Linked DNA regions of Homo sapiens. The protein of the gene in region 2 purifies or fractionates together with the protein of the main gene of each other region. This does not show direct contact. Each region holds a gene or a part of one and is shown on either strand. Other genes may lie near its edges.

Region 1 (3,652 bases), on a different chromosome or scaffold from region 2:
GGTCTTGAACTACTGGCTTCAAGCAATCCTCCTGCCTTGGCCTCCCAAAGTACTGGAATTACAGGCACAAGCCACTATGCCTGGCTCCTTTTTTTTGTTTGTTTGTTTTTTTTAAATATGTAGAAGTATCATTAACATTTTGGTCTTCAGAATTGCTAAGAAGTCTGTGAATGACAGCTGGTAGTTCATAGTCAACTTGCCAATTCCTTAAGGTGCAAGTTGGAAAGCCTTGGGATCAGAATGTTCTGTAATACGGAAGTGTCTGAGATCAAGAGAAGCCCAACCTCCAGTTCTCTAGCACAGCCCCAGACAGTCAGATGCAGCATGTCAGCTGAGGGAGGTTGGCATGGAGGGATGGTATCAAGGTGTGTCTGGTACATTCAGATCCTAACTAATTCGAGGCTTTAGGGTCAGTAGTGTTGCGTTCGGCACGATTCTATCTTAGGAGCTGGGAAAGGGAGTGGATAACCAGGTGACTCTTTTTCTTTCTTTTAAAAAATGTGCTGTTAAGTTTTGTATCAGCTAAAACTTTTTGTGGTACAGAAACCTTTTGGTATGCTAGTGCAGCCAGCCTTTGTTAGGGCATGAGCTTATTAACTATTTGTTTCTGGGAAATGTCATAAGAATTGATGACGATTTGGAAAGAAGGAACAAATTCAAGTTCTCTACAGAAATTAATTGCTGTTAAAAATGTGTCACATGCTGGGCATGATGGCTCACACCTGTGACCTCAGCACTTTGGGAGTCCGAGGTGGGAGGATTGCTTGAGCCCAGGAGTTCAAGACTAGCCTGGGCAACATGGCGAAACCCCATCTTTATAAAAAATACAAAAACTAGCCAGGCGTGGTGGCTCATGCCTGTAATTCTAGCTACTTGGGAGGCTGAGGTGGGAGGATAGCTTGAGTCTGGGGAGGTTGAGGCTGCAGTGAGCCGTGATTATGCCGCTGTCCTGCAGCCTGGCCGACAGAGTAAGACCCTCTCTCAAAATCAAAAACAAAAACCATAGTGCCACATAATTGTTTTCAACTTCAGTTTCAATCCTTGTGTTTTCTACAGTAAAATTGTAGGTGCAAAAAGAAGTATGTGTTGTTTTAACCTGTGACGTTTCAGAACTCACAGAGCAAGGCAGCAGCGTTTGCTTTTGCTTTCTCTGCCCGGATAATGGGAACTCTGAAATCGAAAGCAATTAAATGTGATGTTGGCAAACAGTTATAAACTTGTGTCTTCTTGGAGAGTAGGCTATGTAGTCTTTCTGGCAGCAGTAGCAAGGAAATAATGAGGTGAAAGCGCCCAGGAAAGAAGGCCCCATGAACACTGCAAAGACAGTTTGCTTGTTGTAAATGGAGGTTTCTCCTGGCGGGAAGGCTGTGACCCTGCTGAGCTGTGGAGAAACAGCTTGATAACCAGGGCTTTCCTGGGGCACCCTTTCTGGTGCACTTCGGAAGACCCCGGACTGATGATAGGGCTCTCTTGATTTCACCTAAAGCAAGACTGTAACCTCTGGGCAGCCTGATGCCAGGCTTGGAGGCAAACCCTCAGAAAACAGCTCCCCTCAGTGAGGGAATGGGAGCCTGTTTGAATTAACGTGGAGAATTCTCCAAGAACCCGCAGACTGGGAGGCATTCTCACGGCGAGTCAGTGCAGCTCCTCTTATGTTTACCGCAATTAAGGTGAGCATGAGAGCAGCCTGCCTCTCTTCTGTTCTCCCAGCCATGGAAGCAGGCTCCATTAAAAATGTGTTTTTCAGCCGGATGCAGTGGCTCACACCTGTAATCCCAGCACTTGCAGAGGCTGCGGCGGGTGGATCACTTGAGGTCAGGTAGTTCAAGACCAGCCTGGCCAGCATGGTGAAACCTTGTCTGTACTGAAAATACAAAAAATTGGCTGGGCGTGATGGTGCACGCCTGTAATCCCAGCTACTTGGAAGGGTGAGGCAAAAGAATCTCTTGAACCTGGGAGACGGATGCTGCAATGAGCTGAGATCACACCACTGCACTGCAGCCTGGGCGACCGAGGGCAACCCCGCCTCAAAAAAAAAAACAAAAAAACAAAACTTGCTTCTTACTGGTGGAGTAGAAATCAGTGGCCCACAGAGGCTTAGGTGGCAATGGGAGTGAGAAGACCTCTATTTACATGTTCATGATAGGCCTAGGTGATGGATCCTGACTAGGATGGTTAGTGTGGAAAGAAGCAGTTGAGCACCATGTTTTGGCAAAATTCAAAGGCTGGGAGGTTCCCAAAGGCAAGGAGGAGGAGGCTGGTACCACAGGTCCAGGGCAGCAAGTTGAGTGGAAAGTCTGGGAAAGGTTTGTGTGGGAAGCACGGGAGACTCTTACCCCATAGCTACGAAAGTCGGTTTCTTCCCAGCCTTGTGTTCCCTGCTTCATGACCAACAAGCGCTTAAGTACGAAACTCAGAGGAGGGCAGACAGAAATGATGATAGCTGGAGAGAGAATTAAGCCCTTTGGGGAGAGGTTATATTCAACAAGTGGGAGGAGAGGTTCCCCTCAACTTTTGAGGGAGTGGGGGATCATTGGAAAGGCCTGGAATCTAGTGGGAATTTGGTGTTTTGACATGAATGCTCTCTGACTTTGTTTTTGCCCTTTGGCTGTGTACCTAGTGTGTGTCAGTTCCTGGAGCTGTGTCAGAGCCCAGAAGGTGGCTTTGGAGGAGGACCCGGTCAGTATCCACACCTTGCACCCACATATGCAGCAGTCAATGCATTGTGCATCATTGGCACCGAGGAGGCCTATGACATCATTAACAGGTACAGTGAAAGCCAGCAGTGACAGAAACCTAGAGGAGTTCCCCGCCTGCTGACACGCACTGACTGTTGCCTCTCCTACCTCTTTCCCTGTTTCTCAGAGAGAAGCTTCTTCAGTATTTGTACTCCCTGAAGCAACCTGACGGCTCCTTTCTCATGCATGTCGGAGGTGAGGTGGATGTGAGGTGAGTGGGGTTTTGCACAGGCTGCCACATCAGTTGACTCTAGAGCTCATCTGCCATTAGAGATGCCAAGCCTAAGGAACATCATGGGGAAGCTGCTGCTTTGTCCCAGAATGACACATGGGATGACATGTCAGTGACACGTCAGAATCATTCAGATGTGATGCAGATGTCCTCAGGTGTCATGATCACTTGACTTATTTTATGTAAATGTGAAAATATAAGAAACAAATGCTTTTGTTTTAGAAATTAAAAATACATTTGTTTGGTACAAAATGATATACCACAATATAAATAACTGTATGGTGTAATGTATTCCTTCACCTCTCTGAGATAGGAAGGGAGGGGAAAGTCCAGCAGGGCCTCAGTAAATACCTTCTGAGTGAATTTGATGAAATCATGAGAATGTCTAATCCCTGAGGTCCTCCTGAGGCACATGAGAGTTTTTCTGGGAGGTGCAGAGAGCCTTGTGGGCCGGGAGAGTGCAGTGCAATAAAATCGCATTAACTGATTGGTGCCAGTTAGCTCGAAATTATTATTTTCTTCCATAAGTGTCTGATGTACCAAGCAAGTTGCTTCCTCACCTGGCAGATTACTTATGAGGCATACAGGGAATTCATTGAATAAGCCATTTCTCTAAGACAGTGGCTTATTGAGATTTTATGCCATTTTCTTATTATTTAGTTGAGAAATACATTTTGTGAGG
Region 2 (3,652 bases):
ACACATAGTATAATTTAAAGAAGCATTCCTCTGCAAAAATATATGTGAGACAGTCATGGGTCCAAGGAGAATTACAGGAAACTTGATAAGCACTTTTCAGAAAACATATTACCAAAATGTTCAGAGACAGACTATGTACATATGTAACTGAAAATAACCGAGTATACAAATCAAGTATAACAAAAACAGAAAAAACATTTTGTTAAGGTAGTAAAATTAAACTCACCCTGTACAACCCATAATTTCTGGTCCATCAAAAGAAAAGGGATCAGAATCATCTGGTTCTGACCTCATCCTGTATGTCTTTGTCAGCACTTCATTTGTAAAATATTCATTGGGTTCAAAGTGAAATTCTAAGACAAAACTCTGGGGAGAGGAAGCATAAAAATCAGTTAAATACCTACCTCACATATTTCAGTACTTTAGTAAACACAGCTTCATCTGTTTTTATAAATATTCTAAATGATAATTTTTTTTTCTACTCTGAAATACAATCTTCTTTTTGAGACTGAGTCTTGCATTGTTGCCCAGGCCGGAGTGCAGGGGCACAATTTCAGCTCACTGCAACCTTTGCCTCCCAGATTCAAGTGATTCTGGTGCGCCAGCCTGCCAATTATCTGGGATTATAGGTGTGTGCCACCACACCCAGTTAATTTTTGTATTTTTAGTACAGACAGTGTTTCACCACGTTGGACAGGCTGGTATTGACCTCCGGACCTCAAGTGATCCACCCACCTCGGCCTCCCAAAGTGCTGGGATTACAGGTGTGAGCCACTGCACCCAGCCATGAAATATTTAAGAATGGGACAGACTGTCAGATGAGCCCCAAATTATGTTAAAATCAAAAAAATTACGTTAAAATAATAATGAGGTACAAATTGAACTGAATAGAACTTAGTTTCAATTTACATCTATTAAATAATTAACATGTTTACACAACAGGCTAGGCATTCCTGAATAAAGTGACCATGTTGCCTCCCTTACTCCCCAACTACTGGAGGAATCAGGCTTTTAAATAGTAGACTAAACGTGAACTTGACACAGAAAAAGCCCAACCTTAAGCATCTACAGCCTATATTCTTAGCAGTTTTGCCCTTAGTTGACATTAATTCTGGTGGTTTGGTGGACAGCTTGTTGGCTGATCTTTCCTCATTAGGGAGTGGGCATCCTCTAACATCAGTTTTGTGTAATTCCCAAGCTCATGCCTTTTAATGCAGAAAAAGTACTTATTCATGTTCCCTTGGCATTATTTTTATCCACTTATCCAGGAACAAGGATTGTCTGTGTTTCAAACACAATTTATGATCAGAAGGAGGAAAAGGAATAAATACTGCCTCACAATTAGCAGCATCCAAATATTTATTCACTATAACAAAGAGCACCAACCTTACCCTTGAATGTTATCTTTTTAAAAGCTTCTATTTATCTACCTGTAAGCATGTTACAAAATTATAAATATTTCAAAGTTCTTTTACCATAGGCTGGCCAGCATCTGAGAACTTCACTTTAATATCTTTCAAGTGCTTCAGAATAGGTTCATCGTGTTCCTTCAAATTAAAAAAATAATAAAAATGAATAACATGGCATTCGAGGACTGTGTTCTGTTACTACACAAACACCAGCTGACTGAGACATAATATATTTCAAAGTAGTTTTGTATAGCAATTATGAACCTTAAGACTTACTCTCCAGGTTATGGCTTATACTAAAGCTAATTTATACTGTAGTTCTACTGCCACTGGTAGAGAAAAAGTGTCCAAATAGACAACTGAATTATTATATAGGTTGAAAAATCCAAAATCAAGTCTAAATAAGGCATATCTACTTTTAAAATGTTTCCTGATTGTAATTGCTGCCTTTTCCAGCTGCTTGTCCCCTTCCTCCTGGTCGTTCCTTTTCCACTTTGCTAAAGTAGAATTGTAATAAGCAGTAATTGTGTGAAGATCATTTCTTTTTCTCCATGTAACTTCCAACAATGACAAGACAGGGCAACATGTACTACTACAATGTAGACGGTAGGGGCTCACTCAAGAAATGCTTGAGGCAGTTTCCCAAAGGTGACAACAGTTATGGTTTGCCAGAGAATGTAACCATTGTGAATGAGTTTAACATCTTTATGGTATTCTTTTAAAATGCAAATTTCTCCTGGAAGAGTTAAGGGAATTGCATAATTGCAGCTATAAGATTAACTTTCCCATCATACTTCCATACTAAGTATGTAAAGACAAAAGGCACAGGGTTATAAGAAAACACCAGTCGATAATGAGCCATTATCAATGGGACCATTTCATTATCTCATTTTTTAAAATAAACTAATTTATTTGATTACATTAATCAAAGCTGTAATTTCTCTTCTACAGATATTAGCTATTTCAAAAGTAAGCAATCATTCTAGAAAGATCAACACTGAAGAGAACAGTGATCACAGCCATTTAAACTTCAAAGGTTTACCCTTCAAAGTAAACTGGTACATTTATGAATAAAATTACCTGAACCATATCACTGAGCAAGTCAACATTCTTAAAAACAGTTAACCAAAATTCAGGAATTCCTTTGGGGTCTTCTTTTTCTTCATCTTTTTTCTCATCTTCAATCTTGGCCTTTTCTTTCAATTCCTCCTTGATTAAGTGACAGCAAACATTATTTAATACATAGATTAGACCTCATGATAAAGTAGCAAAGGTATAAAAACCAAAAAGCACAGTCACCAGATATTACCTTCAAAGTTCTAGTCTATCTGTGTAAACACCGCCGTTGCCCATAACAAACCTTAATCCCATCAAAATTACTGCTACCACACCCCTCCAAAGAGAACCACTAAGGTGACCAAGATGTGTAGGAAAAACCATTTTAGTAAAAAAAAAATGTAAAAACTAATTAAAAATGAAGACTTAAGCATAATAAACAAGAAAAGCAACAGAAATACTAATTTGGTCCATTGCCTCACCCCATGGTGTTCTTAATCAAAACATTATATTCTCTTTACCAAACAACATAAAATAGCAATGCTAGAGAGGTGGAACACTTAACACAGCACTGAATGTGTGTCACAGCTCTGCCATTATTCATTGTGGGCAAGTCACTTAGAAGCCTCCATGTCTTCACTTGAAAATGGCAACAATCCTCAGCCTACCATGAAGTTAAAAAAAAAAAAAGAATATAATGAATCTACAAACTAAAAACTGTAAGCCAGGCGCAGTGGCTCACGCTTGTAATCCCAGCACTTTGGGAAGTGAGGTGGGTGGATCATTTAAGGTCAGGAGTTGGAGACCAGCCTGGCCAACATGGCGAAACCCCATCTTTACTAAAAGTACAAAAAATTAGTCAGGCATGGTGGCGCACGCCTGTTATCCAGTTACTGGGAGAAGGAGGCAGAAGAATTGCTTGAACCCAGGAGGTGGAGGTTGCAATAAGCCGAGACTGCACTCCAGCCTGGGCAACAGAGACTCAAAAAAACTATAAAAATAGGCTGGGCACAGTGGCTCAGTGGTTCAAGCCCATAATCCCAACAGTTTGGGAGGCTGAGGTGCGAAGATTGCTTGAAGCCAGGAGTCTAAGACCAGCCTAGGCAAGAAGACTCTGCCTCTACAAAAAAAAGTAGATTAAGCTGGGCATAGTAGCTTCAGATAGTCCTAGCAACTTGGGAGGCTGA

The links. Proteins that work in one complex are often made in the same cells at the same time.
Region 1: the proteins of NAP1L1 (region 2) and FNTB purify together in Homo sapiens (affinity purification with mass spectrometry; 3 studies listed by BioGRID). This does not show direct contact.

The regions. Positions count from the first base shown.
Region 1 is NC_000014.9:65,024,833-65,028,484, forward strand, and holds part of FNTB (protein farnesyltransferase subunit beta), read left to right. Parts: intron 1-2,620; coding exon 2,621-2,767; intron 2,768-2,865; coding exon 2,866-2,949; intron 2,950-3,652. Other genes in the region: CHURC1-FNTB protein, read left to right, coding at 2,621-2,767, 2,866-2,949. UniProt on the Homo sapiens protein: Essential subunit of the farnesyltransferase complex. Catalyzes the transfer of a farnesyl moiety from farnesyl diphosphate to a cysteine at the fourth position from the C-terminus of several proteins having the C-terminal sequence Cys-aliphatic-aliphatic-X.
Region 2 is NC_000012.12:76,053,544-76,057,195, forward strand, and holds part of NAP1L1 (nucleosome assembly protein 1-like 1), read right to left. Parts: intron 2,619-3,652; coding exon 2,490-2,618; intron 1,548-2,489; coding exon 1,476-1,547; intron 367-1,475; coding exon 227-366; intron 1-226. UniProt on the Homo sapiens protein: Histone chaperone that plays a role in the nuclear import of H2A-H2B and nucleosome assembly.